Linked DNA regions of Homo sapiens. The protein of the gene in region 5 purifies or fractionates together with the protein of the main gene of each other region. This does not show direct contact. Each region holds a gene or a part of one and is shown on either strand. Other genes may lie near its edges. The genes, in order: RBM34, ZFP91, ZBTB4, RBM28, PRDM5, TNRC18 and KIF1C.

What was found.
Region 1: the proteins of PRDM5 (region 5) and RBM34 purify together in Homo sapiens (affinity purification with mass spectrometry; 2 studies listed by BioGRID and IntAct, with this or other methods). This does not show direct contact.
Region 2: the proteins of PRDM5 (region 5) and ZFP91 purify together in Homo sapiens (affinity purification with mass spectrometry; 2 studies listed by BioGRID and IntAct, with this or other methods). This does not show direct contact.
Region 3: the proteins of PRDM5 (region 5) and ZBTB4 purify together in Homo sapiens (affinity purification with mass spectrometry; 2 studies listed by BioGRID and IntAct, with this or other methods). This does not show direct contact.
Region 4: the proteins of PRDM5 (region 5) and RBM28 purify together in Homo sapiens (affinity purification with mass spectrometry; 2 studies listed by BioGRID and IntAct, with this or other methods). This does not show direct contact.
Region 6: the proteins of PRDM5 (region 5) and TNRC18 purify together in Homo sapiens (affinity purification with mass spectrometry; 2 studies listed by BioGRID and IntAct, with this or other methods). This does not show direct contact.
Region 7: the proteins of PRDM5 (region 5) and KIF1C purify together in Homo sapiens (affinity purification with mass spectrometry; one large-scale study listed by BioGRID and IntAct). This does not show direct contact.

Annotation. Positions count from the first base shown.
Region 1 is NC_000001.11:235,133,588-235,137,879, forward strand, and holds part of RBM34 (RNA-binding protein 34), read right to left. Parts: coding exon 4,290-4,292; intron 2,487-4,289; coding exon 2,447-2,486; intron 2,184-2,446; coding exon 2,065-2,183; intron 1-2,064.
Region 2 is NC_000011.10:58,619,543-58,622,601, reverse strand, and holds the end of ZFP91 (E3 ubiquitin-protein ligase ZFP91), read right to left. Parts: 3' UTR 1,052-3,059; downstream 1-1,051. UniProt on the Homo sapiens protein: Atypical E3 ubiquitin-protein ligase that mediates 'Lys-63'-linked ubiquitination of MAP3K14/NIK, leading to stabilize and activate MAP3K14/NIK. It thereby acts as an activator of the non-canonical NF-kappa-B2/NFKB2 pathway.
Region 3 is NC_000017.11:7,468,993-7,473,500, forward strand, and holds part of ZBTB4 (zinc finger and BTB domain-containing protein 4), read right to left. Parts: intron 1-4,508. UniProt on the Homo sapiens protein: Transcriptional repressor with bimodal DNA-binding specificity. Represses transcription in a methyl-CpG-dependent manner.
Region 4 is NC_000007.14:128,298,476-128,302,983, forward strand, and holds part of RBM28 (RNA-binding protein 28), read right to left. Parts: 3' UTR 1-4,508. UniProt on the Homo sapiens protein: Nucleolar component of the spliceosomal ribonucleoprotein complexes.
Region 5 is NC_000004.12:120,817,746-120,822,253, forward strand, and holds part of PRDM5 (PR domain zinc finger protein 5), read right to left. Parts: intron 3,601-4,508; coding exon 3,426-3,600; intron 783-3,425; coding exon 608-782; intron 1-607. UniProt on the Homo sapiens protein: Sequence-specific DNA-binding transcription factor. Represses transcription at least in part by recruitment of the histone methyltransferase EHMT2/G9A and histone deacetylases such as HDAC1.
Region 6 is NC_000007.14:5,308,322-5,312,829, forward strand, and holds part of TNRC18 (trinucleotide repeat-containing gene 18 protein), read right to left. Parts: coding exon 4,182-4,508; intron 1,048-4,181; coding exon 811-1,047; intron 629-810; coding exon 554-628; intron 1-553.
Region 7 is NC_000017.11:4,996,541-5,000,749, forward strand, and holds the start of KIF1C (kinesin-like protein KIF1C), read left to right. Parts: upstream 1-1,409; 5' UTR 1,410-1,616; intron 1,617-2,472; exon of another isoform or gene 2,473-2,506; intron 2,507-3,309; 5' UTR 3,310-3,430; intron 3,431-3,679; 5' UTR 3,680-3,706; coding exon 3,707-3,812; intron 3,813-4,209. UniProt on the Homo sapiens protein: Motor required for the retrograde transport of Golgi vesicles to the endoplasmic reticulum. Has a microtubule plus end-directed motility.

The DNA.
Region 1 (4,292 bases), on a different chromosome or scaffold from region 5:
GAGAGAAGAAAAATTTATGACATCACATAGTATGTACAGTCAGCTCCCCAAATCCGTGAGTTCAGTATCAGAGGATTCAATCAACTGCAGATAGAAAATACTTGAAAACAACAAATAATATGACAATAAAAAAATTTATTATATATAACAATATACATTCATGCAAATGTGCCATTTTATATAAGGGACTTCAGCATCTGCAGATATATATATACTGTTTGCTATGTGAGAGGGATCCTGGAACCAATACACCGTGGATATCAAGGGATGACAATAGATTATTTTTTTGTTTTGAGATAGGGTCTCACTCTGTCAGTTCGGCTGGAGTGCAGTGGTGCAATCATGGCTCACTACAGCCTTGACCTCCCGTACTTAAGCAATCCTCCAGCCTCAGCCTCCTGATAGGACCACAGGCGCTGGCCACCATGACCAGCTAGATTTTTATTTTTTAATTTTTCTTTCTTATTTTAAAACAGGGTCTCACTCTGCCATCCAGGTTGGGTGGCTCACTGCAGCCTCGACCTCCCAAGGTTCAGGTGATCCTCCTACCTCAGCTCCTCAAGTAAATGGTACTACAGGCATGCACCACCACGCCCAGCTGATTTTTGTATTTTTTTGTAGAGGCGGGATTTCGCCATGTTGCCCAGGCTAGTCTTGAACTCCTGGGCTCAAGTGATCCACCTGCCTTGGCCTCCTAAAGTGGTGGGATTACAGGCGTGAGCCACCGCACCCAGCCTTACTTGTATATTTTTTTGTAGAGTCGGTGTCTACCTATGTTGCCCAAGCTGGACTTGAAGTCCTCACGTTAATCAATCCTCTCGCCTCAGCCCTCCAAAGTGCTGGGATTACAGTCACGCGTCAACATGCCCGGCCTGTATATTCTTTTACTCCTTAATATTGTCAGGCATGAAACACTGGTTAAAAATTAGCGAACTAAATATAACTAATTTTGTACAAAGAATAAAACTTTCTTATACCTTAATGTCAATTATTTACTCTATCATACAGAAGGTAGAGAAGATTCAGTGATTTAGTACTTCTAATATCCAGGATCAAAAACATTTAATTAGTATGAAGAAAGAACTGGGACATCTTTTGGATAGGTGCAGTTGTAGCAATATATTATGGCAGGTTATAAATTCAGTTCTCGTTTTCGGGTTTTTTTTTTTTTTTTGAGACAGAGTTTTGCTCTTGTTGCCCAGGCTGGAGTGCAATGGAGCAATCTCGGCTCACCGCAACCTCTGCCTCCCGGGTTCAAGCGATTGTCCTGCCTCAGCCTCCCAAGTAGCTGGGATTACAGGCATGTGCCACCATGCCCAGCTAATTTTGTATTTTTAGTAGAGATGGGGTTTCTCCATGTTGGTCAGGCTGGTCTCGAATTCCCGACTTCAGGTGATCCACCCGCCTCGGCCTCCCAAAGTGCTGGGATTACAGGCATAAGCCACCACATCTGGCCGGTTTGTTTTTTTTTTTTTGAAACGGAGTCTTGCTCTGTCACCCAGGCTGGAGTGCAGTGGTGTGATCTCGGCTCAATGAAACCTCTGCCTCCCAGGTTCAAGTGATTCTCCTTCCTCGGCCTCCCAAGTAGCTGGGATTACAGGTATGAGCCACCACATCTGGCTAATTTTTAAATTTTTTGTATTTTTTTTTTTCCCCCTTGAGATGGAGTCTTGCTCTGTGGCCCAGGCTGGAGTGCAGTGGCACGATCTCGGCTCACTGCAACCTCCACCTCCCGGGTTCAAGCGATTCTCCTGCCTCAGCCTCCTGAGTAGCTGGGATTATAGGCACCTGCCACCACACCTGGATAATTTTTGGACTTTTAGTAGAGACGAGGTTTTACCATGTGGGCCAGGCTGGTCTCAAACTCCTGAGCTCAAGAGATTCACCCGTCTCGGCCTCCCAAAGTGCTGGGATTACAGGCATGAGTCACTGCACCTAGCCCAGTTTTCTTAAGATGGAATTTGAGAATGGAAGTGAAAGTTATGTCTCAATGATGACATGCAACAGTGTCAATGCCTCCCAGGGCACTTCGAAGGACAGTGACAATGCATTAGTCTCCCATACCTCAAAGAGCACATAGCCAAACCCTTTGCCGATGCCTGTCATTTTGTCTCTCACAATCCTCACGGCCATGATACTTCCACAGTCCAGAAAGTGCTTCTCAATGGCAGATTCTTCAACTTCTGAAAACAAATTCAATCAAAATGGAAGTAAAGAGTTGGGAGCCCCTCAGAAACATGGAGTTGTTTAATAATACAGCTAGTTAAGCATGGTCCCATGAAAATAAGCCATTATATTGCACACTTTTTAGTACATGTGCTGCCACGGCAAACACATTGCATGCTTTAAAATTAGTCTTAAATCAAAACATTAAGTTACTACTCAGTTCTTATTTCCTTGTTATTTATTTAGTAATATTAACTGTACTTTGTTTAAACAAACTTACTATAAGGGAGATTCCCCACAAAAACCGATCTCTTGTCTCTCTGAAACAAAAAGACAGTTAATAAAAATCACTCACTAGACCAGAAAATGGAAGTCATCGAAAATCCTCCCTATCCCTCCTTCCCCCCATATCTGACAGGTCACCCATCTTCTAATTTAACCACACATCATGTTCTTTGATTCTGTTTCTTCTGTCTTCCCTGCTGGACTGTGTGTGGGTACCAGAGGAGGGGAGTGACCTTTTGTTCACAGCTGGCACTGACACACGGTAGGGATCAGGAACGGACTGCTATATTGGGAGCATGCCAACTTTTTCTGTAAAGGGCCAGATAGCAAATATTATAGGCTTGGCAGGCCATGTGGAATCTGCTGCAACTACTCAACTCTGCCATTATACCTTGAGAACAGCCCTTGGATAATACACAAATGAATGGATGTCGCTGTGTGTCAAAAGAAAACTTCATTAACAAAAAAAAAGCAGCACGTAGATTTGGCTCTCTGCCATAGTTTGTTGACCCTGTACTGGGTCCCCAAGTCAAGCCAGGGCTTTCATCCAGGTCGTTGTCATTTCTCCACTAAGTTCCTTTGATATCGACAGAAATGCACTCTATGTTTCTGTGGGTGAACTGTTATAACTGTCCTTCATTCATTTCTAGGCACCTTTGTCAAGTCCAAATCTGGTCATGTCACTCTTAGTTTAAATTTTTAGAATAGCTCCTGAACAAAATCCAGACTCCTCTGTGTGAAGCACGGTAGACAAGGTCTTCATGATTTGGCCTCTGCCTATTTGTCCAACAGCAACTCTTACATACCTCACCCACCTAATAATTGTACCAAGCTCTTGCCATCTCCTGAGTGAATTAGTTTCTGTCCTCACCATTTATACTGTTTTTCCTCCCAGACATGGCCCTCAGCCTTTACAACACTTTTGGTCTACATAAGCCTTCTCTTCTTTCTTTTTTCCCCCCGCTTCTCCACAGGGTAAGGTCTATCTCCTCATCTTTCAAGACTATTATGAAATTTATTCCCCTGGAAACTTGCCTTGTCCCTTCTTCCTGGCATATCCCCAAGTCAAGTGTCCCAATGCTGAGCTGACAAATCATCCTGTGCATTGATGATAGTACTTATACAACAGTGACATGACCTGTCACTCCAACCCTAACATATACTGTCAGCTCCTAGGAAGTTGAGACTATGTCTTAGAACTGCATCTCTGACAGAGTGTGTACTAAAAACTGTCTAATGAATAATTGAACTTTCTAGACCTCGGTCTATAATGTGTTAGACCAGATGATGTCTAATGTACCTTCTGACCTAATTATGCTTATTTGAAGAGGACTATGTTTTTGTTTCTTTTTAAGAAACAGGGTCGCCCTCTGTTGCCCAGGCTAGAATGCAGTGGCACGACTACAGCTCACTGCAGCCTCAAACTCCTGGGCTCAGGTGGTGCTCCCACCTCAGCCTTCTGAGTAGCTGGGACTGTCGGCATGCATCACACACTTGACTAATTTTTTTTTTTTTTTTTGTAAAGGCAGGGTCTTGCTACATTGCTCAGGCTGCTCTTAACTCCTGGGCTCAAGTGATCCTCCCGCCTTGGCCTCCCAAAATGTTAGGATTACAGGCATGAGCCATTGTGCCCAGCCAGGACTACGTTTTTGAAGGGAATGTTGACCTCGGTCCTTGTGCCTCTCTTGCCATCAACTCTGTAACCACAGAGGACATAGGCTGTTTCCTTCTGCGCTTCCCTCACATTGCTGATTCCAGTCCCCTTCCAGGAAAAGCCTGGAAGGAAACATTTCTCTCTACAAAGCTCTCGTTCTTTAAACAAATCAAGTACTACTTACAGA
Region 2 (3,059 bases), on a different chromosome or scaffold from region 5:
AGAGGAGGTAGCAAATTCCTGGCTGTGGATTTTTGTGCCTGTGGAATCAAAGGGCCCTTTTTAATCAGATTTTTTTTCCCCTGCAGCGTCTGCCTCCATCTCTCTCCTCCACTCAGTACTTAGCACACTTGTTTCTATGTCATTGTTTTGCTTTTGCACTTAGCAACAAGGTCACTATCATACCAATCCTCATGGCACCCCTGCCTAATGTAATCTATCTCACACACTTAGAATTAGTTCATTTTATTATCATTCTCCCTTATGCTTCCCATGTCTTTTTTCTCATAGGCTGGCGAAATGTTCATTCAATAAAATTGTTATTGACACAGCTGCCATTTATTAAGTATCTACCATGGGTCAGTCAGTAAGCTAAATACTTTAAAGCAATTCCATTTGATCTTCAGAATATTTCTGAGGTAAATGTTATTTCTCCATATAAGAAACTGAAACTTCAAGAAATAACATGCACAAAATCAAGTAACGAGGCTTGAATTTAAATAGAAGTCTGATTCTATAGTTGTCTCTCCCACTGACTTTCCAATTTCATTTTCTGTTTAGGTAGTTCACATCTTGTTCAAGAAACAAAGGGTGTGTGAAGTCCTTTAAAAACAGGATTTTTTTCACTCCTAACCTTACGTACTTTTTAAAGGTAATTTAATTTATACTTAAAAATCAAGCAAGGAAGCATCTCTAATTTCAATCACGGTGCCTTCCTGGTAGCTACATAGGAGGAGGAAGGTACTGTTTAGGCCTGTTCTCTTCCAAAGAACAGGAAACACCCAACGCTAACTTGGTAACATTTCTAAAGCAGTCTCACTCAAGTGACAACATGCTTTCCTTTTTTCTCCCCTACCCAGTCATACCACATGCTTCTTAAAATAAGAGAATGAGCTGGGCTTTGAAATGACAGTATAAAAGTTAAAAGGTACTTGGAGGGTTGTCATTCTATTGCATTTAACTTAGAAAATGATGCTTATTGGGTAAGGGCTAAATGAAATAATTAGCTTTCATTATTTATATCATAGATATTGCCAATAAGCTGAAACACATACCATCTTAGAAGCAAATTTATAAAAGTAAACAATAAATGGGAGATGTAACAGAGCAGCCTGGGCAGCTATCACAGCATGGCTTTTGGAAGGCAGAAGGATTATAGTTTTTTCTTTTTTAAAATAAAAATCAGTACTTGATATAAACATTCAATTTTGAGAAGAAGTATTAATATTAAATGCTATCAAGGTTTTGTCATTATCAGGGTAAAATTAACCTCACATAATCCTTAATTTTCCATCTACTAGGTTAATTAACATATGGCCAGTTTTCCTAGGAGGCAGTTGTCAAAACATCAAGATTTCCAAGTTTGCTGAATAACAGAATCATGTCATTTCAGCATTAGAAATCAAGAACAGTCAAAAATTAACCACCTGATTCTCAACAAAAGCAAACAATAGTATGCCCCACATAACACCTGTTCTGAGGGCATTTGGTTTGCTTAGCAGCATCACATGTTTCACCCCTAGGATAACTGTAACTCAGTACAACCAAGGAAGACAAGTTGCTTCCATGAAGACAACTTTTATTTTTCTTCTTTACATATTTATTTTTAATATGCCTTACCTAGAATAAGAGAAAACAAAGATTTGAAAAGCAAAGTATCCCTTTTATTATAATTTCTTTTTACATAACCTTTTCAACCTATATTCAGGTAACTACCTGTCTCTCCCATGAAAGGAGAAGGGTCCTGCACATTACAACAGGCAAAAAAGGCTTTTAAGAAATAAAATATTTTAAATTGATCCATTACATTTGTTCAATTTTCTTGAGTACATTGGAAAGTGGGAAAAACACAAAAGGAGAAAAAAATGGTATTTCAAACAACCAGACTATAATAATCTTAGTTAGATTGGTAGTACACTCATTATACTTTTTCCCCAAACAGGTACAAAGGAGGTTCAAGTGCTCTATGTGGATGCTAGTCTATACCTCGATATTTTTATTTTACTCCCAGTACTCCCACGGCCATGGCCAGTGTTTGCCTAAATTCTCTGAAGCATATCAAGGAGTCTCAGTTACGCAAAACAACCTTGGGCAACCACAAAGAAGAGGGATGCACATCTCCCAGAAATATTAAATAGCTGTATCTCAACTACAGTTTCAGAATTTAGAACCACCAATTCAAGATGGAAATATGCAGTGGGAAGAGTTATTAAAAAGGTAACAGAATTTGACTAAGAGCATGAAATGTAGAACTTTAAGATTAAAAGAGCTCCCTGGAAGGACAATGAGGCATATGGAGCAGAAGGGAAAGCAGGGAAACGGCTGAGATAGTTTAATTACACCAACTCTACTATGCAGCATCCCTTTATCAAAAGGAAAAATATAAAGTCTATAAAAAATATTTTAGTATTGCAAACTGCTGCAATAATTTATTGTAGGCAAATGGTAGCTATAAAGAGGGTCCTTGACCCCTAAAAGAAAAGAAAAAGTACAGCAAGTTTCTAATTAGTAGAACTAACTAGTTGTTTTTTTGTTGGGAGAGCGGTATAGGAAAGGAGAATACATTTTCTCCCATCTCAGAAAGATTTTTAAAAATGCAGTTTGCTTTTGTGTAGGTGGCTAAAATATCTGATGACTAACCACTGCAAATGAAATTTACGGAGACAAAGGATAAGTGTGACAAAAAAGCTAAGTGTGGAATATAGATGCTAGTTAGTCAAAAAGTGTAAAAGGGACCTGAGAGGAGGACAACTTTTTTGTAGATTCATCTAATCAATCTTGTATTTTCAAATCTAGTCAATATACCAAAGTCGACTCCAAACCATGTTGGCAGGAAAGCATATTCTACATCCCTTCTATCTTTATTCCATTTTCTATCCCCATATTATGGAGAAATGGCAAATCTGCAACACTCTGAAAAGAAACAATAGCGCATTTGAGACTGGTGATTGTAGGTGTCTCACTCTCTGTTCCCTGGCATCCCAAATGCTGACACTAGTTGGTATAAAGTAAGCCTCTTTCAGAAATGACATTTTGTTACTCCTCTTTTTGGGAAAAAAGAA
Region 3 (4,508 bases), on a different chromosome or scaffold from region 5:
GGCATCCTGCGGAAGGGGCCTCACTGCATTCACAGGCTGATGCCCAGGCCTCCTACTCGCCTCCATGAGAACCACTGGCTCACCGGGACCCCAAGAGTCAGTGTTTTATTTGGATTACCTCATTTGTTCCTTATCACTACCCTGAAAGGTAGCAGTTAGCTTTCCCTCCTTTTAAATTTTATTTATTTGTTTTGAGATGGAGTCTCGCTCTGCGCCCAGACTGGAATGCAGTGGTGCAATCTCAGCTCACTGCAACCCCCGCCTCCTAGGTTCAAGCGATTCTCCAGCCTCAGCTTCTTGAGTAGCTGGGATTACAGGCGTCCGCCGCCATGCCTGGCTAATTTTTTGTATTTTTAGTAGAGACAGGGTTTCACCGTGTTAGCCAGGGTAATCTTGATCTCCTGACCTTGTGACCTGCCTACCTAGGCCTCCCAAAGTGCTGGGATTATGGGCGTGAGCCTCCATGCCTGGCCACTTTCCCTCTTTAAGGCCGGGCACGGTGGCTCATGCCCGTAATCCCAGCACTTTGGGAGGCCAAGGCGGGCGGATCATCTGAGGTCAGGAGTTCTAGACCAGCCTGGCCAATGTGGCGATCTCTACTAAAAATAATAATAAAAAAAAAATTAGCCAGGCATGGTGGTGGGTGTCTGTAATCCCAGATACTTGGGAGGCTGAGGTAGGAGAATTGCTGGAACCCAGGAAGTAGAGGCTGCAGTGAGCCGAGATCGCGCTGGATGGAGATCAATCCAGGCTGGGTGACAGAGTGAGACTCTGTCTCAAAAAATAAAAATAAAAATAAATAAAAAATAGGCCGGGCACGGTGGCTCACACCTGTAATCCTAGCAGTTTGGGAGGCAGAGGCGGGTGGATCGCGAGGTCAAGAGATTGAGACCATCCTGAAAAACATGGTGAAACCCTCTCTCTACTGAAAATACAAAAATTAGCCGGACGTGGTGGCAGGCACCTGTAGTCCCAGCTACTCGGTAGGCTGGGGCAGGAGAATCACTTGAATCCGGGAGGCGGAGGTTGCAGTGAGCCGAGATTGCGTCACTGCACTCCAGCCTGGTGACAGAACGAGACTCTGTCTCAAAAAATAAATAAATAAATAAAATGACAGACCATGGGCTGGGTGCAGTGGCTCACACTTGTAATCCCAGCACTTTGGAAGGCTGAGGCAGGTGGATCCCTTGAGCTCAGGAGTTCGAGACCAGCCTGGGCAAGATGGAGAAACCTGGTCTCTACAAAAAATACAAAAATTAGCCAGGTGTGGTGGTGTGCACCTATAGTTCCAGCTACTCAGGAGGCTGAGGTGGGAGCATCCCTTAAGCCCAGGAGTTCAAGGCTGCAGTGAGTTATGATTATGCCACTGTACTCCAGCCTGAGTGACAGAACAAGACCCTGCCTCAAAAAAATAAAATAGGCTGGGCATGGTGGCTCATGCCTGTAATCCCAGCACTTTGGGAGGCCGAGGTGGATGGATCACCTGAAGTTCAGGAGCTCGAGACCAGCCTGGCCAACATGGTGAAACACCGTCTCTACTTAAAATATAAAAAATTAGCAGGGCATGGAGGTGGGCACCTATAATCCCAGCTACTCAGGAGGCTGAGGCAGGAGAATCACTTGAACCCAGGAGGCAAAGGTTGCAGTGAGCCGAGATTGCACCATTGCACTCCAGCTTGGGCAACAAGAATGAAACTTCGTCTCAAAATAAATAAATAAAATGTCAGATTATGGCTTATCAATGCTAGGTAGCTGGCCCAAGGACGTATGACCAGCTAGTAGCAGGGCTGGGATCTGATCCCAGGAAGTTTGGCTCCAAAGCCTGTGTTCCTGATGACTTCACCATATATTAACGAAGGACGTGTTTATGGCACCCACTAGGGCACAAATATCCTACCTGGGTGCCTTTCTGAAAATTAGAAGCAAGGTTCTTTCCTCCAGGAGGTAGCAGCCCTGTGTAGGTGGGCAAAGTCAAGCTTTGCCTCCAGTCCCCATTCACCCCACTGGCTGGGCCTGCCAACCTGCACAACCATATGTGGTGGGCTATGCATGTGTGACCGTGTGCTGACTACCACAGTACTTGGACGAGACCTGTCAGGGCTTCTTAGAACTAGAGACACCCAATGCTGGACTGGCCCTTAAGATCACACACAATCATTGTCATCATGGTCTCTGTAGCTGCCATTTATGAAAAAAATTTTTTTTTTTTGAGACAGGGTCTCATTCTGTTGCCCAAGCTGGAGTGCAGTGGTGTGAACATTGCTCACTGCAGCCTGGACCTCCTGGAATCAAATGATCCTCCTGCCTCAGCCTCCGGAGTATCTGGGACCATAGGCTTATGTCACAATGCCTGGCTAATTTATTTATTTACTTTTGTAGAGATGGGGTCTTGCCACGTTGCCCAGGCTTGAAATACTTATGATGTGCAAAGTATAATGCTAAGCATTTTATCTGTATCATCTCATTTCAACACTCAAAATGGCCAGTGAGACAACAGGCTTAGAGAAATCAAATACTCTAAACTCCTCCCTTTCAGGTAGAAGGTAGGTAGTGATGGGGTTATTTGCCTCTGGTTTTGTTGCTAGCCAACCCAGCGTTTGGACGCAGCTTGAGTTAAACTGCCCTATCCTGGCTACTGCCCTGCAAGGCCTTATAGGAAGTGGAAAAGACTAGCTATGTGACCCCAGGCAGGTTACTTAACCTCTCTGTATCTGTTTCTTTGTCCATACGGTGGGGACAATTAATAGTTCCTACCTTGTGGGGTTGTTGTAAAGATTAAATGAGCTAACAACTGGCAATATTTAGTTTGTAGAACTCAGTCCTGGAAAATGGTGGGGAGAAGTAGTGAAGAAAAAAAGGCACAAATTGGGCTTCCTGGTAGGTTTGGTGGCTCTGTGGTTTTAGAGTTTTTTATTTGTTTGTTCTTACCATTTCTCTACTCTTCAGTGCCTGTGTGACCTCAGATGTGCCACTGAGGTGGGGATCTGAGCATGGACACCAGAGACGCCCTACATCTTGCGGTTCCCTCTGGCTGGAATGTTCTTTCCTCCAGATAGCCTCATGCAGTGAACCCCAACTTCCTTTAAGCCTTGACTTAGAAGCCACCTTCCCCTGAGGCCTTCCCTGGCCACTCCCCACCTTCTAAAACTTCCTATCTCCCGACCCTACTTTATTTTGCTCCTTGGCACTTAGTAACACTTTTTCTTTTTTTTTTTTGAGACACAGTCCAGCTCTGTCGCCCAGGCTGGAGTGCAGTGGTGCGATCTGGGCTCACTGCAACCTCCGCCTCCTGGGTTCAAGCGATTCTCCTGCCTCTGCCTCCCGAGTAGCTGGGATTACAGGCGCCTGCCACCACGTCCGGCTAATTTTTGTATTTTTAGTAGAGACGAGGTTTCACCATCTTGGCCAGGCTGTTCTTGAAATCCCAACCTCGTGATCCACCTGCCTTGGCCTCCCAAAGGGCTGGGATTACAGGCATGAGCCACCGCGCCCAGCCTGGCTAATTTTTTTGTATTTTTAGTAGAGGTGGGGTTTCACCATGCTGGCAAGGCTGGTTTTGAACTCCTGACCTTAAGTGATCTGCCCGCCTCTGCCTCTCCAAGTGCCAGGATTATAGGAGTGAGCCACTGCACCTGGCCATTCTTTTTTTTTTTTTTTTTTTTTTTTTGAGATGAGGTCTCACTCCGTTGCCCAGGTTGGAGTGCAGTGGCACAATCATGGTTCATTGCAGCCTCAACCTCCCAGGCTCTCATGACCTCCCACCTCAGCGTCCCTAGTAGCTGGCACCACAGGTGCACACCACAATGCCCAGTTAATTTATTTTTTATTTTTAGTAGAGATTGGATCTCTCTATGTTGGCCAGGCTGGTCTCGAACTCCTGGGCTCAAGTGATCCTTCTGCCTCGGCCTCCCAAAGTGCTGGGATGACATGCATGAGCCACTGAAACTGGCCCAACTGCTTCTCTTTTTTTTTTGCGGCGGGGGACAGAGTCTAGCTCTGTCGCCCAGGCTGGAGTGCAGTGGCACAATCTTGGCTCACTGCAACCTCCGCCTCCCGGGTTCAAGAGATTCTCCTGCCTCAACCTCACGAGTCACTGGGACTATAGGCGCGCGCCACCATTTTTTTTTTTTTTTTTTTTGAGACTGAGTCTCGCTCTGTCGCCCAGGCTGGAGTGCAGTGGTGCGATCTTGGCTCACTGCAAGCTCCGCCTCCCGGGTTCACGCCATTCTCCTGCCTCAGCCTCCGGAGTAGCTGGGACTACAGGCACCCACCACCACTCCCGGCTAATTTTTTTTTGTATTTTTAGTAGAGACGGGGTTTCACCATGTTAGCCAGGATGGTCTCCATCTCCTGACCTTGTGATCTGCCCACTTCGGCATCCCAAAGTGCAGGGATTACAGGCATGAGCCACCGCGCCTGGCCAGGCCCGGATAATTTTTGTATTTTTAGTAGAGATGGGGTTTCACCATGTCGGCCTGGCTGGTCTTAAACTCCTGACCTCAGGTGAT
Region 4 (4,508 bases), on a different chromosome or scaffold from region 5:
GGGGGTGGGTTCCCCCAATACTTCTGTATTTTTCAGATTCTCTTTACTGAGCATATATTATTTTTACAATCAGAAAAAAATGAACGGATTTATTTTCAAATGCCCCCCATTGCTCTTCTTTAAATATACAGAATATATTCTTTACATATAAAACACTGCTCCTTCAGAGCCAAGCAAAGGATCACTCATTTTCCCCTTAACTGAGAACAAGGGCTGCACATGAACAAAACGCCTGCTTTAAAATGTACCCATGGCTGGATGCTGTGGCTCACACTTATAATCCCAGCACTTTGAGAGGCTAAGGTGGGTGGATCACTTGAGCTCAGGAGTTTGAGACCAGCCTGGGCAACATAGCGAAACTCTGTCTCTATAACAAATACACCAAAAATTAGCTAGGCATGGTGGTGTGTGCCTGTAGTCTCAGCTATTTGCAAGGCTGACGTGGGAGGATCACTAGAGCCCAGGAGGTCGAGGCTGCAGTGACCTGTGATTACACCACTGCACTCCAGCCTGGGAGACAGAGTGAGACCCTCTCTCTCAAAAAAAAAAAAAAATGTACCCATATTTGTTTTCATCAGGTATGGTAAGATGACAGACACAGAGAAAACTATCTCTGCAAGAAGAGTTTGTTATGCAGTTCCCAGGAGGAGAGGTGTGTCACGCCTTGCAGGGCCACACAGGAAGAACTTGGGTCAGCCAAGAAGCAGAGGGGGTGAGGGAAAAGCACGATCCAGCGCCTTTAATGTAGTTTCCAGCAGAAAGGCAAGGCAAGGCAGGGAAGCAGGCTTAGGATTGGCTAATCTGTATAACTTTGGCAGGCCCTGGCTATAGGGATTGTCCCTAGTTGTCCCATGCCTGGCCCTGGAGTGATTTAGGGCAGGGGGAATATTGGCTTGCTGTGTCAGAGTTTGATAAAGGAGGTGACTGGGGGTGTGGGCTCTGGATTGACTGGTTTGCATACGAAAGGCACGCTCGACCAAGTTGTTTACTCTCTCCCCAAAGTAGCTAGCCCTGGGAGGGGCAGTCTCTCCAGGATAATGCATTATAAAAACAACAACAGCACCTGATTAGTATAATGACATATGTTTCTCTTCACAGCAGTTTGTAATAGCAAAGGTTGGAAACCGTTGAATGGGATTTCCATCACATAAAGAACTGGTTATGTAAATTATGTTACACTGATACAATCCAATGAGCCTCCCTTCAGAGAGAGGCACCCTCATGGCCTAATTACTTCTTTAAGGACCCCATCTCAATACTATCACATTGGCAATAACCTGAATTTTGGAAGGGACACATTCAAACCATAGCAGAGATGTAATCAAATTAAGATGAAATCATTGGGCTGGGCCTAAGCCAATATGACTGGTGTCTTTATAAGAAGAGGGAAATTTGGACATAGACCTATAGACACAGGGAGAAGATGGCCATGTGACAACGAGGCAGAGACTGCAGTGATGCATCTATATGCCAGGCAACGCCAAGAAATTCCTCATGAAGGAACCAACCTTGCCAACACTTTGATTTTAGACTTCTAGCCTCCAGAACCGTAAGGTGATAAATTTCTGTTGTTTAAGCCACCCAGCCTGTGGTACTCTCTTACAGTAGCCCTCCTGACTAATATAGGCCCTTTCTCAACTTTCCCTAGAAGCCCAGGTTTCCTTGCTACAACCCTGGCAGAGGCTTTGGCACATTTCACCCCTCCTCTCTTTGTGATTGGTTTTCACAAAGAAGCTCAAAGTGGAGGAATGATCTCTGGACATGAAGCCTGAGGACCATGCAAGCTCCTTCCTGCCAGAGGCTCTGTTCTGGGTTCTACCTGACCTGGACTCTGAGGGCTCTGAGCAGGGAAGGGTTAGAACCCAGCGTGGATCAAACATTTGAGATGAATCAGCACTGATAGCTGGAATGTGAGCTCCCAAGTGGCTTGAGCTCACTCTGCTCAGGACCCTCTGCAGCTCCTGGGGGAACACTGGCACAGACGGGTGCACAGTTAATATTCAGTTAACACCGGCTGGCTGAATGAAGGGCGAGCTATCTTGAGCCTGACTTTTCTGATCCTTCAATGAGCATGCTAACATCATCCAACCCCTGACCTTGTGGTGAGGATCAAAGACGTTAATGCCCACTAAACGCTTTCTACGATGCCTGGAAACAACTGTTATCAATACTGTGCTATGTTTTAGTAAAGAGGGCTGTTCCCTGAGAGCAAAATTGGCAAGTGGGTCTCACCTCCCATGCTGACTCCAATTGTTGGGTGCGGTTGCATGGATTGATGTCAAAAGCCTCCCAAGGCCCAGTCTGGGCCAGATGCAGGGACTGTCATGATCCCTTAGCAGTGTTTGCTCTGGAAAAGGAGGAACAGGGACCTGGGTGCCATCTCTTCACAGCGCTCCACCCCTAGGGCCTGCTTAAATGGCACAGCCAGCTCCTCAGAGAGACAGGACACACTCTCCTTCTGCCTGCAGTTGTGAGGAAAGAAGGGGCACTGAGGAGGATGGGTCACCCCGGGAGCAGAGCCTGGCTCATATCCTGGTATCCCTGCAGAGGCTGGAGGTGGGGCCAGCACCACCTGAGGACATGTAGCCTTCCCAGGATTCTGGCGTGTGTTCCCATCCCTAGCAGGAAAGAAGTGGAAATTAGCCAATCACCCTGGAAGTGGGCAACCAGTCTTTCTCCCCTTTCCTGTGAATTCACTCAGGACACTGGGGACAAAAGACATCACAGACCCTATCTCCCGTGCTCTTTTACAGTGGCTATTTCATTTAGTACTAGGGGGCTTTTTGCCTGTATTTTATAAATGAGCAAAGAGGACTGGAGGGTCTGAGTGATTTGTCCAGGGTCATCCTCTGTCCTTTGGCTTTTACCTGTGTCACCACAGCCTCCTGGGGAGATGGCTGTGAAAGTGGGCAAAGGGTGAGTCTCAGCTTCACAGGGCTGCAGCATCAGCAGCCTCTCTTGCCTGTCCGTCAGCACTGACAGGGGCAACACCTGGCCTGGCACAAGGCTCTCCGCTTCTTGCCCTCAGGACTTGGAGTCTCTTGGAAGGAGCCTCAGCCCTTCTCTTGGTTCCTGCTTTTGTCTCTAGCCTTCCTAGAGTAGCTCAGATCAGTTCACACCCCTCTACCCACGACTACCCAGGAAAGGACATGATCCCTCATTAAGACCCAGCTATTGCCTAAGGGTCACTGAGGGCCTCAAACCCCAGAGGCTCTGTGGCAGGCACCTGGGAGCCCACTTGGCGGGCCTTGCCCTGGCCCAGACATCACAGACCACTCTCACTGCACTGGCTATTAAGTGCCTGCTCTCTACTAGGGATTCCTAGGGGGTGGCCAAGAGAAGGAAAGACACCCCCACAGGAAGGATGGGCCCAGAAACTGACTTTCCATGGCTCCGACGAGGGGTCCTGAGGCACTCTATCGAAGTGCAAGTCCCTGAATCTGTGTCCCAAGCTCTGAAAATGCAAGAGGTGCTTGGAGCAAACAGGGAGTGTCCTGTCACTGAAGGTCTGCAAGCAGAGGGGTAAGGGACTGTTTGCCTCCTACAGATTTCCCTTCTTTCTCTTCTTCTGGGCCTCTGGGCCAGAGACAGGCATTTTACTTGATGCGATCATCCTCAGCACATGCCTGACACATAGTAGGTGCTCAGTAATTGTTAGCTGTTGTTATTAACCATTATGTGAGTTTAGAGTGCCCGTCCTATTGCAGAGAGGGAGAGAGCAGAGACAAATGGTGATTCTAAGAACCTGTCCCCTTCCCTGGGACTCACTCCAGTGGCTGGTCGCCAGTTGCACCCACACGCGGCTGGCTGCGGGCAGGAGAGCTGGGCTCATTCGTTCTGGCAGCTGTCCCTGCAGATGAGGATCGAGGGTATGTGACTGCCTGAGCAGCTACTTCAATCCTAATGTCCCTTTAATAGCTCTCGTCAAATTGCCACAGCTCTCCCCAGAGATTTTCATGGCTATGGAAAATAAATAGCCATTATCTGACCTCCAGGGGAATGAAGATGTCTGCAGAATTCGGGGAAAAGCAGTTATAAAACTGAGTAGAGCCAGCGCACCCTTTCCCTATTAGCAACCTCTAAGGGAGTCCTAGCTACTGCCTAGGAAATCACAAAATAAATGTATTCACTCCTCAGACTCTCTTTTTTCACCTATTAGTATGTATATGAGTACATTTGGCTTGTGGTAGATCAGGAGAGAGAAAGAAAGAAAAAACAACTACAAAAATATGTAATGATTAGTTAGTCCAGGGGTAGCAGGAAAAGAAGCTGGTCAAGTAAAGGGTTTAATCCTTTTTTATTTTTATTATTTTTTTAGACAGGGTATCACGCTGTTGCCCAGGTTGGAGTACAGTGGTACAACCATAGCTCACTGCAGCCTCAAACTCCTGGGCTCAAGCAATCCTCCTGCCCCAGCCTCCCGAGCAGCTGGGACTACAGTGCACACCACCACACAAGGCTAATTTTCAAATTTTGGGCAGTTTTACTATGTTGCCCAGGCTGGTCCT
Region 5 (4,508 bases):
TATTTAAATAAAGATAATTTTATGTTGTTAATATAAATTGTTAAAATAAAAAAGGGTACAGAGCTATGTGTGGGATCATCTAATTAATCATATTGTTATAACTGGGACCTATGCATCTTTAAATTATTCCTCCAAAGTTGCTCTCAAATAAACAGTGCTTCCCAAAATGTCCAGGAATTCTTTATACTTTGAACTCCCCATTTCTTAAACTTTTTTTTAAACAGATTCCAGAAGGAATATAAAACGTAGACAACTAAAAGTCTGTTACCTCAAAGGAGTAACTAAAGTAGGCATATCTGAATTTCAGATTAAACCAGTAAGCTTGATACATAATGGCAAATTAATAAATGGACAAAAACTAATTACCATAAACAGTGTTTATGTGTTAAAATCCATAATTTGAATATTTTAATAATCAACATACTATACTAAGAAAAGATGAGTTAATGACAATACCAATGTAAAATGCTTAATCTCTCATTCACACACAAAACATGCGCGTGCGCGCGTGCACACACACACACACAGGTTAAAAACTATGAGTTAAGCTGAATGGAATAAACTGTGTTAGCTTATAATTTTAAAGATATTTCTTTAATATACGCACTGTCTTTGCAAAGCCTGCTTAACTGGGAATTTCTTCCCACAGTTCTTGCACTTAAATTCTTTCTCCTCTGTGGGTTTCTGGTGCAATGTCTGGAGATGCTCAGCAAGAATATCCTCACTGGTAAAACTCGATTCACATTGAGGACAAGCATAGTCCTCTTTACAGCCAAGGCGATCTGCACATTCACAAGGAAACATATTCATGAGACAAAAATTCAGAGCCAAGAAATGCTCAGTTTTGCTCTCATTTTAAATTAATTAATTAATTGTGCTTAATGATACCATATGAATAAATTCTTATTATCACTATAAATATTAATAGTATTTGGCCACAAAAAAATAATAGCAAGTGTTACTAGAGAGAAATACATTATTTTCAAAATCACTTGTATTTCACCAAATTAATACAAAGTCAAATTCCTTATTTAATTCATCCTATAATGTTAACTTTTCAGATCAAAATGTTAAATTAGAAAACAAAAGCTATTCCTGAAATTGGTCATTTTTAGCTCATTTTTACCTTCACAAGGAGAAAAATCCAACTGATGCAAACTATATTGAATTACCAAGGAGAATCTCACATACATGTGAAAAAAGACCAAGGTCATAAAAACAGTGCTGATTAAGCTAGTAGAGTGAATTATGCTACACGGTCCCATATAGACTGGTGCAGGTCTGACCAAATTTCTCAGCGTGCTATTTAAATTACACATTTGTTTCTGATTATAAAATAAAATTAGACTTAGAAAATGCAGAAAATAAAAAACACCAATAATCCCATCAGGAAGAGACAACTGTCATAATATTACTGGCAAGCCTGACTTGCCTTTAGTGCATACATATTTTATGCGCAGTCTAAGAAGAGGTAAATTTGGGATCATACTTTATATACAATTTTATATGTTTTCCCATTTAACATCTTCTCAAGTCAAATGTTGGCATATTTTTAAACTTAAAGTACCACAATTTATTTAACCAAACTCTTCATTGTTAGACATTTGGGTGGCTTGTTTCTTTTGCTGTTTGTTTTTATTTTGTTTCTTTGCTTTTCTAAATAAAACTAAGAATTCTAAAATAAAAATAGCCATGGCACATGGCACATGGCACATGTATACATATGTAACAAACCTGCACATTGTGCACATGTACCCTAAAACTTAAAGTATAATAATAATAAAATAAAATTTTAAAAAAACCAAAATAGCCACAATGCAAGTGCTTGGTTCATGTGTTTAAAAAATTCTGTTTAAGTTTCTGTTGATTCTTTTTACAAAGATAATGAAAACTGGTATTTTAATAACTAAAGCAGAAATCAGGGCAGTAATAGGTAAGTAGATTACTTATTTTTAAATTAAAATAATGGATAAAATAACTTGCCCTGGGGACAACAGGGAAAAAATAAAATACAAAAACAAAGAAAACACAGAATAACACAGAAATAATTCCCATCACCCAAAATATGATATTCCAAATAGCATAATGCATATAAGCCTGTCCTTATCTTCCCCTTAAATAATTCAACTAAAATAAAGAAACAGAAGCATAAGCTGGCAATGGTGACAGAATGTTCACACTTTCTCAGCCAATAACATGCAGTTAGAACAGAAAAAGTACAGGAAAAGCATACTACCACTTTGACTAATGAAACCAGTATCACTTCTGAAGTGGCTTTGCTACACAAAATGGAAAAGTACTGTATAGTAAGTATCAGCCTGCTATGGTCTGAATGTTCGTGAATCCCCAAAATTCATACGTTGAAACTGAAACCGCAATGGAATTGTATTAAGAGGTGGGCCCTTTAGGAGATGATTAGGTTATGAGCACTGTGTCCTCATGTATGGGCTTAATGCCCTTGTAAAAGAAGCCCAAGAGAGCTTGCTTGTCCCTTCTGTCACATGAGGACACAGCTAGAAGGTGCTATCTAATTAGAAACGGGCCCTCACCAGACACCAAATCTGCTGGCACCTTGATAGACTTCCTAGGCTCCAGAAACGTAAGCAATAAATTTCTGCTGCTTACCAAGTATCTAGTCTAAAGTATTTTGTTATAACAGCCTGAAAGGATAAAGACGAGGCCTATTACAAAATGTGAATACCTATAGCATCATTCATATATCCCTTAAATTTCCCTTAGGAGTAAAACACAACATAATAGAAACAAGGCCAATAATAATTGATTATTCCCTGGCAGTTAACAAGCAAGTGGCTGCAGTATTGACTGAGGAAGGTCTGACCTACGGTCACTGAAAGTTTTTGGTAACCACACTAGGGCAACCTAGCAATCCTCCAGGCTTCTGTGATCAGAACAGAAAGAGATGCCAAGAAGCTGCAGGTTCCCAAAAGATCCCAAACAAGAGGAATCAATCCCCTTCGGATCCAGCAGGCTCTCTTGTGTACCTCACCTCCACTCTCACCTTTTCCTATATGCAGATGAGAAAGTAAAGTCTCAGAAAGTCAGCAACTTGCCCAACGTTACAAGACTGATTAGTGGCAGAGCTATGGCAAGACTATAAAAATCCTCACTACTCATTACCCCAATGCGCCAGTGAGAGCAGTGAGAGCCGGGAGCTGCCCTAGCAATGCAGCCCTGCCTGCGGCCTAGGCAGTCCTATAGGGTACATCCATCACCCACTCCCAAAATACTTTTCCTGCTGTAACAAAGATGAGTCCACCACAGGATACCCTCGAGAATAATTTTGACAAAAACTAACTTTATTTGAGAATGCCATATTACAAGGCAACTATAATTCAACCACAGTTTAAACTACACTTTTTTCTACAACTTTTCTTCTCCCAGATCACCAATTAAAGATGCAATACCTTTTCTGCCCGCTGTTGATTGTCTTCTAGAATTTTCAACTTCCCCTTCTTTGATGACTGTCATAATTTGCTGTTCTTCCTCCTCAGCCTCCATGTCACTATCCAGGTAGCCAATCAGAAGCTCCGTGTCTGTTTCTATATCTTCAACTGCCAAATAGAAAATGTTTTCTCCTTCCTGAAACAAATTTTTTTAAATGCTGAACCATTCATTTGTTTCTGATAGTAATTAAGAAATAATTTTAAGATACATTAATGGAGTACTATGTGTGCATGAAAAGTTATTACTTTTTTTTATTTCTAGTTGATCTGGGTGCTGAAAAAGGCAGGTGACAATATTCAGTTACCTGGCAAATAAAATACAAATACATATGACAAAAAGTGACATTTACACATGTCAAATGAAATTATGTTCAATTTTTAAAGTGAATTTTGCATCACTAACTGGCCTTATGCAAGCAACACTTTGTGGTGGCCTATAAATGTAGTTGTCATGCAACAGTGTCATTCACACATGCAGACAGAGAGCAATGAGATATCAATGATTTCGTTATTATTAACACTAACACAAAACTTAAAAAAAAAAAAAGCCTTTCAAGTTCTAACACAAACCAGAGGAAGTGCAAATAAGTTCGTCCCCTGAAAGAATTTACTGAAACCTGGTCCCGAAATAGAAAAAATACTAGACATCTGGGAAGTTCAAGGTGTTGATGGAGCCATCATGTGTACCTCACCTCTTTGGTCTCTAAATCCCACAGAAATGACAGACACGAGAAAAAGAAAAAAAAAAAAAACAAGGTCCACCATCAACATATCAAGATATTTTAGAAAGTCCTGGAAAACAGAAATCAGACATAGTCGAAATAATAGATAACTAATGCAGAGGAAACCTCGACCAATAACAGACACAGAAGAGGAATGCTACAAAGAACCTTCTTTCCAAGGAAACCCCAGAGAAACTTCACACTTGGAATCAACTGATACAAAAGCCATGCTGGGCCTTGGGCCAATCACCAGGGAAGCCAGAACTGAAGCTGTAAAGCGGGCTGTCCCCAGGAGAAAGCACCCAGAATTGCTCTCTTTTAC
Region 6 (4,508 bases), on a different chromosome or scaffold from region 5:
CGCGGGGATATCAGGATGGCAGGTGGGGGGCACAGAGGCCGAGGGAGCCCCAGGGAGCCACAGGGACAGAGACAGAAGCAGAGGGAGCCCCAGGGACTGAGACAGAGACCAAGTCAGAGACAGAGGCTGAGTAAGAGACAGACCAACAAAAGAGAGACAGAGACCGAGAGATGGAGAGCAAATGAGAGACAAGGATAGACAGACCAAGAGATCCAAAGACGCAGAGAGACAGAGACCGAGATCGAGAGAGACCCAGAGAGACACAGAGACTGAAAGATAGAGGTTGGGAGAGACCCAGAGAGAGTCAGAGGGCAAGAATGGCCAGAGACTCAGAGACAGACACTGGGAGAGCAGAGAAGACCCAGAGACAGACGCACAGACCAGAGAGACAGAGAACAGGAGCCAGGCACTGAGAGTGGCAGGGACAGGAGGTCAGAGGCTGAGGGAGACCATGGGGGACAGAGCAGCAGATGCTGAGCCGGGCCCTGTCTGAGCTGCCCGGAAGGAAGCAGCCATCCCCAACCCGCCCACCACCACCACCACCACCACCTACCTCCATGAAGTCCTTCCTCTGGCTGGAGACCCGCAGGGCCGCCGGGAGGCTGCGGCTGGACTTCTGGTCCCAGTGCTGTGTGGGGGAGAGAGGAGGGGCTTGGGTGAGCCCGGGGGCTGCTGCACCCGACCCCAGGCCCCAGGACAGGGCTGACCCACTGGGCAGGGCTGCTGATGCTCCAGCACCCAGAACGCCTCGCCCTCAGGTCTGCCCTACACCGCCTAGGACTGGGGGCCGCAGCCGGGCCGCAGGCTCACCTGGCCCTGGTGGAACTGCTTGCCCGGGCTGGTCTCCTCGGGGTGGTAGAACCACTTGACGCGGACCACCATGTTGTTGCCCCACGACTCCCACATGCTCTGGATGCGGCCGATGTAGGGCAGGTTGGGGCGGCCGGCAGAGAGGAACACGGCACAGTCCCCGATACGGATCATCTCCTTGCCGCGCACGATGGCCTTGTAGAAGAGCTTGCGGGCCTTGCCCTTCATGCCACGCCGCTGCAAGGACACGTGTGTCACGGCACAGGCCCTGGCCCAGCCCCAAGGAGCCCGCCGCCTGGCAGGCTCTGCCGCTTGGGACTCTGGGCCCTCGGCCTCTAAATCAACCCCTATCCAACTGTGGGGAGATGAGGAAGCTCCTTGTCTCGCTTCAAGTGGGGAAGCCCCTCTTCCATCTCTTTGACATGCTGGGTCTCCAAGAGGCGCTTCCCTTGATCTAAGCATTCTGCCGCTACAAGACTTCTTATTTTTGAGACAGGGTCTCCCTCTGTTGCCCAGGCTGGAGCGCAGTGGCGCCATCATGACTCACTGCAGCCACGAACTCCTAGACTCAAGAAATCCTCTCCCACCTCAGCCTCTGAGGAGCTGAGAATACAGGCGCACACCACGCCCGGCTAATTTTGATTATTTTTGTAGAGAACAAGGTCTCACTATGTTGCCCAGGATGGTCTCAGACTTTTGGCCTCAAACCACCCTCCCACCTTTGCCTCCCAAAGCACTAGGATCGCAGTGTCAGCCACTGCACCTGGCCTTATTTTTCTTTTGAAAATTACTTTTTTCAGAGAAAGGGTCTTGCTCTGTCACCCAGGCAGGACTGCAGTGGTAATATCATAGCTCACTGCAGCCTCGATCTCCTGGGCTCAAGCCATCCTCCTCCCTCGGCCGCCTGAGTTGATGGGATTACAGGAATCCACGGCTAATATTTTTATTTTTGTAGAGATGGGGGTCTCACTATGTTGCCCAAGATGGTCTTGAACTTTTGGCCTCAAGTGATCCTCCCACATAAGCCACCCAAAGAGCTGGGATTACAGGCGTGAGCTACCACACCTGGCCTTTTTTATCTTTTAAAAAATAGTTATTATTATTATTATTCTTTTTGAGATGAAGTCTCACTCTATCGCCCAGGCTGGAGTGCAGTGGCACGATCTTGGCTCACTGTAGCCTCTGCCTCCCAGGTTCAAGCAGTTCTCCTGCCTCAGCCTCCCAAGTAGATGGGATTACAGGCGTGCACCACCACGCCTGGCTAATTTTTGTGTGTGTATTTTTAGTAGAGACGGGGTTTCACCATGTTGGCAGGGTGGTCTCGAACTCCTGACCTCAAGTGATCCTCCTGCCTGGGCCTCCCAGAGTGCTGGGATTACAGGTGTGAGCCACTGCGCCCGGCTAAAACTATTATTTTTTTCAAGACAAGGTCTCACACTATTGCCCAGGTTGGAGTGTAGTGGCACAATCACAGCTCACTGCAGCCTTGACCTCCCAAGCTTAAGTGATCCTCCCGCCTGGGCCTCCCAAAGTGCTGGGATTACAGACTTAAGCCACTGCACCTGGGCAAGAGAGACTTGAAACTCCATTCTAGAGCAGCTTTGGAAATGCTGCCTGAGACACCACTGACCCCTTCTGGAACATGCAGGTGCTCCTGCCCCACACCTACAGCACGTTGGGGGCTCCCTGCCAGCCTGTCTGAACCACCACTTCTCACACTGGGTCCTGCCATGTATATGTGCCTGTGTGTGCACATGTTCATCTGTGCATTTGTGCACGTGTTCATGTGTGTGCACGTGTTCGTGTGTGCACGTGTTTGTGTGTGTGCACGTGTACTCGTGTGCATGCACGTGCATGGATGCACGTGCACGCATGTATGTGCCTACGTTTGTGTACGTGTGCAAGTGTGCATTTGTGTGGGTGTAGTGTATTTGCATATGTGTGCATGTTCATGTTTACATGGTTCATGTACGTGCCTGCATTCACATGTACATCTGCATGTGTGTATACTTGCTTTTGTGTGTGGCTGTATGTGCATTCATGTGTACATGTGCACACATATGTGCGTGTGTGTGTGCATGTGCCCATGCTTTTGAGTGCACTGTGTGCAAGTGTGTGTGCGTGTGTGTAGACAGCCACAGGCAGGCTGGAAGGGCTCCTTCTGAACAGCTAACCCACTGCTGCAGGCAGGGCACACGGGACCCCGACCTGGCCAGCCAGGACTTTGTCTTCCAGGCCATATTGATTCACTCAGGGGTGGGCACATGATCCTGGCCAGGCCAAGGAGCTTCAATCTGGACTTTTGCTAGCAAACCTGGGAAGGAGGTACCTTCTGCTGGGACTGCCACACTAGTGGCCAGGAGCCCGGGGCGTGGCTGGGAACACTCAAATGCCACACACAACAGGCTGTCAGGCCCCGCACCTGGAATTCCAGCACTCTGGGAGGCTGAGGCGGGAGGATCACTTGAGCCCAGGGGTTCAAGACCAGCCCAAGCAACACAGTGAGACACTGTCTCTACAAAAATATTTAAAAATCAGCTGGGTAGCATGGTGGCACATGTCTGTAATCCCAGCTACTCAGGAGGCTGAGGCGGGAAAACTGCTTGGGCCCAGAAGTTCAAAGCTGCAGTGAGCCACGATGGCACCGCTGCACTCCAGCCTGGGTGACGGAGCAAGATCCTGTCTCTTAAAAAAAAAAAAAGAAAGAAAGAAAAGAAAAAGCCAGGCGTGGTGGCTCACACCTGTAATCCCAGCACTTTGGGAGTCCGAGGCAGGCAGATCACTTGAGGCCAGGAGAGTTTGAGATCATCCTGACCCACATGGGGAAACCCCCATCTCTACTGAAAATACAAAAATTAGCCAGGCGTGGTGGCGTGCGCCTGTAATCCCAGCTACTTGGGAGGCTGACGCAGGAGAATTGCTTGAACCCGGGAGGCAGAGGGTGCAGTAAGCCAAGATCACACCACCACACTCCAGCCTGGGCAACAGAGAGAGACTCAGTCTCAAAAAAAGAAAAAGGAAAAAATCCCAGAGGCCTGGAAAGCCCCTTCCACGTGGCGCCGACGCCTGTGGGTCTGTGCTGATCTTTGCACGTTTCCTTCATCTGGGCTCCACGAGGGTGGCTCTGCGTCCCGGGACCAGAGGGCAGGACCACTCTGCTCTGAAGGACTCGGGCATCGGAGTCCGACAGACCCAGGTGCCTGAGGACACTCTGAGACTCAGTGTACCCATCCATAAAGTGGGACGCCAGCCCTCCACCCTGGGGTTCTGGGAGGTTACCACACACGGAGACACAGCATGAAGCCGTGGGCCCAGCAGAGAGACACAAGGCCCCCGGCCCCTCGGCCGTGCCCGGGCGCGAGCTTGCTCACCTGGGTGGGCTTGCCGAACCACTTCCAGAGCTGCCGGGCTGGCAGGAAGGCGGCGATCTTGGGCCGGTTCTCCACGGACGGCAGGCGCTGCCGCTTGGCCAGCTCCTTGGTGGTGGGGAGGTGGACGCCCTCTCTCTTCTTGGGTCGGCTCTTGGCCCCGGCCTGAGCCTTGGGCTGCAGAGGCTGTGTGGGCTGCGGAGGAGGCGCCTGGGGCTGGGGCGCGGGCGTCTTCTTGCCTGGGGAGTGGGCCGAGGGCCGCGCCTTGCCGGCCTGCTTGGTGGCCTTGGTGGGGAGCGCCGCCTGCGCGGAAGGGCCAGCCGTGGGGGC
Region 7 (4,209 bases), on a different chromosome or scaffold from region 5:
GTGTGGTGGCAGGCATCTGTAATCCCAGCTATTCGGGAGGCTGAGGCAGGAGAATCGCTTGAACCCAGGAGGCGGAGGTTGCCGTGAGCCGAGGTCAGCCTGGGCAACAGAGCAAGACTCCGTCTCAAAAAAAAAAAAAAAAAAAAAAAAAGAATACTAGATAAGTTAGGAGAGAGTGCACATAGGCTCCCGAAGGACAGAAGCAGCCAGCTGGAACTGTAGAGGTGAACTAGTATTTATCCAAGGGAACTAGGGATGGGCTGGGAAAGCAGGTGAGGTCAAAAGCGGAGAGAAGTATACCGTGCGGAAGCGGCAGATGGGGCTAGTTGGAGTTGGGCTGAAAGGGCCTAAAGTGGGGTCTAAAGGGGATGTCCTGACTCGGAGGGGGGTCAGCAGAACGCGAGGGAGCAGCGGGAGCTGCGGGGCATTCGGGCCTCAGATAGTTGGGTCCAAGCGGGTGACCTAGATCCAAGGGCAGGATGGAGCTGAAGGAAGCCAGGAAGGATCCTCCACAGTTGACTTCGGGGTAGCCACGGCCTGCGCCTGCGAGGGTGGATGAGGACCCGAGGGTCCGGCTGGGGCTGAGGGGCTGCCTGGAGCCCCGCTGGAGGGAAGCGCCGGGCCGGAGGGCGCGGCCTGCGCCTGAAAGGGCGACGGGGACCCTCGACAGGTGGACCGGGCGTGGCCGGACCTTCCGGGCAGCCCCGCCCGAGGGCACGACTGGGGGCTGCTTCCCTCGAGAGGGGCCCTGAGGTGGTGGGCCCAGGCTGAAGGGCAGGCTGGGGCCTGAGGGACGCCCCGGGTCTGAGAGGGCAGCTCCGGCCTTAGGCGGCACCCGGGCCTGAAGGGGTTGTTTGGGCCTCAGGCGGCGTCCAGGGCGGCCGAACTTGAGGGCCAGGCGGGGACAGAGCGCCCGAGTAGCCGCGCCACGGCCGGCCGCATTTGGCCCCAGCACCTGAAGCAGCTGCGCGGCGAATTCTAGAACTCGGCGGGGCGGGGAGGAGAGAGACGGCGATTCGAGCCGCGGGAGGAGCCGGCGGGCGGTGCTCGTCTGAGGGCGGGGCCTGAGCGGAGCCACCTTCTGGGCGGGCCTCGGCAGGAGGCTCCGCCCCCTGGACGCGCCTCCAACGGCGGCGACGGGAACTGGGCCGGGGCCTGGGTGCCCCCGCGGGTCAGCCCCCGACGTTTCCCTGTTCTTCAGGCGTCTGCAACCCTCCTGGGTTGCGGCGTCTGCTCGCCCTTCTGCGTCCGCAGCTCGGTCCCCACGTTCCCGCTCGCTGGGCCCCACAGGCCAGGAGCGTTGCCCCTTTAACAAGAGTAGCCCGGGTCGCTCCCGGCTCCTTCCCGGGACCGCGCGTACCCGCCCCTCCGCGCGCGCTCGCGCGTCCCCCGCCCCTCGCTCCCGCCCCAGCTCGCGCTGCCCGGGCGGGCGCCGGCCGCTGGCGCCGCTACTGCTGCCGCCCCCGGGGCGCGAGTCCGCCGCCCGCCGCCCGGGCACCCGGCGAGGGGCGGGGGCAGCTCCGAACCGGCCCCAGATCCTTCCCGCTTCCGCCTCACGCTTCCCGGAAAGCTTGTCCCTCTCCGCCGAGCTGCTCCGGGAGCCCCGCCGCGCCGAGGTGAGGGCTGGGGAAGGGGGAGGGAAGGGACGCCCGCGGAGGAATGTGCCGGGTTGGGGGGCGGGGAGCCGGGGTCCGGCGGCGCGATCTAGGCTCAAGAGTCGGGATCATGTGCTGTTTGTTCCGCGGAGGCGCAGAGAGGTGCCAGGCCCGGGCGGCCGCCGGCTGGCTGGACAGGAGGACGGGTCCGCATGGCCGCCCTGAGAGGCCGGGCGGGGACCTGTGTGAGAACCGCCGGGTGGGCAAGGTGCAGGTGGCCCAAGACCCCCTTTCGGGCCGGTCGGCCCCACCCCAGCCGCCCAGTATCCTCCTTGTACCCCACGGCTCCTTCACAGCTGCACCGGCCGACCCCTGTCCCTACCTCTATTCCCTTACCCCGCTGGCCCCCAGCCGTGCCACCCCATCCCTGTCCCATTAGCTGCAGCAACGGCGTCACCATCGCTTGTCCCCACCAGTGTCCTTCCCTCCCCTGGTCAGGGTCTAGGGGGTCAGGGCTGTTCTTCCTGAGCCAGCTTCTGTGATTCCAGCTACTCCCTTCCTGTCCTGGGACAGACCAGCCCCTCACCCTCCCATGCTCTGCCCAGGAAGACTGGTGAGGGGAGGCCCAGCGTGACAGGAGTTTGGGGTCCACTGGGGCCACAGGAGGGGGCTCCGCATCCCTTATCCTTCGTGGTCCTCCTCCCTGTTGTCCGTGGGCGTGGGCTGCTCAGCCTCTCCTCCCAGGGTGTGGGCACCCGATCACCCACATTCCTGGGCTCCAGCCTGGCACCTTCCCCAGGGCAGTGGACGCCATAGCACTAGCCCCAGGTTGGGGCTGGCACCAGCCAGCCGGCTTCCTTTTCTTTCTCCCTTTTAGGGAGGCCCCAGGGACCCTCTACCCTCAAACACAGGTATTTCTGGGCGCCCCAAGGGTGGAGCCCTGAGGGTTGGTCTGATGGCTACAGGATGACCCCACCCTCCCCTGCTCATTGTCCCGGATCCTGAGGAGGAAGTGCTGGGGGCTGGGCAAGGGGCTTAGAGCCCACACAGCTGGCCCTGTGGATCCCAGTCCTGGGCCCTACCTACAGTCCTTGGACTTTGCCCATCTGCACTACTGGCCTGGTGCATGGAGGTTGTGGGCCTCAGGTGGAAACTAGATTCTCCCTTGCCGACACTGTGGGGGAATTTGAGGACAGGTTTTGCATTTGCAGTTTCCTCTCTGGTCTCTCTTCTGGGCTCCCAGTTTGTGCTTTGGCGCCGGAGTTCCCCACCCTGTCTCTTTAACACCGTGTGTTTGCTGTGCTGTGTCTCTTCCTCCTTTCCTCTCCCATTCTTTCCTTCATAGCATGACCTCAGGCTTGCCTTTTGTCTTATTTCTCTAATTTTCTTGGTGTCTGTGACTCTCTGCCCCTCCTCTCTCTCTTCCCACCCCCCTCACGTCTCTGCCCATGTGCCCCTCTCTCTGAATTGCCCTCTGTCCAGCCTCTTTCTCTCTCTGTCCTCTATCTGAACGTTCAGTACATTTGCGAGTGACAAGGAATAAAAATATCACCGTCCCTGCCCTTGGATTCACATTGCATTCAGCCACTCTAGAGGGGCAGCTGTCCGTACTTTTCCTGCTATTCCCCCCGTAACCTTGGCCCTCCAACCTGGGAACCCCAGACGGGTCTCTGGAACCACAGGTGCCTTCTAACAACTCTTCCCCCGCAATCAGGGTATCTCCCAGAGCCCCAGCTGGTGTGGCCAGGCCCCAGGAGTAGGATGGGGCTCCCCCTACGAGGGCCGGTGGCAGCCAGAACTGATACAGCCCCCCTGGTCTGGGGCCAGGACGCCAGGTAACTGGGGGAGACCGCCCAGGTTCCTGCAAGCTGGAATATGGCTGGGGAGAGAGGCAGAAATACCTTTGGGAGTCTCTCAAGACAGTGACATTTGGGAGGAAAGCCAAGGGAATAAGAGCTGGGTCCTTGAGAGGCTGGGTGGCTCTGGGGGAGATGTGAAGAGACTGGTTCCGGGAAGAAGCTGGGAGGCAATGTCTGGGTCCCTGCAGTGGTTCTGACCCCACCACTCCTTTCTCTGTCCTCCAGCTGAGGAGGGCAGGAGTGTCTGGAGCTATGGCTGGTGCCTCGGTGAAAGTGGCAGTGAGGGTTCGGCCCTTTAACGCCCGTGAGACCAGCCAGGATGCCAAGTGTGTGGTCAGCATGCAGGGCAACACCACCTGTGAGTGAGTCCCCGGGGCCTGGCTGGGCACAGGCAGGGAAGGCCGGGCCCACCACACAGGCCAGTCCCGCTGGGCCAAACTAAGAGGAGGGTAATGCTGGGCACAGAGCAGGTGCTAGTCGTAAGGGCGGGGGCTGGGGCAGGCTGGCCTTTCCCGTGTTCCCAGTCCCTGGGAGGGGGAATGTTGGCCTGGAGCCCTCCATTGCCCAATCCAGGGAGGCAGCTCAGTGGGGGCGGGTCCTAGGAAGCCAAAATTAGCTTTGGTGGCTGGAGGGGGTGGGGAATGTTAAAGGGGAGAGAAGAGTCAGGACAGTGGTGAGGAGTGGGATGCTTGGATTCCAGGGGCTGGTTGGGGTATGGGCAGGGACTGGGAATACCTGACCTTGACTTTCCTTCC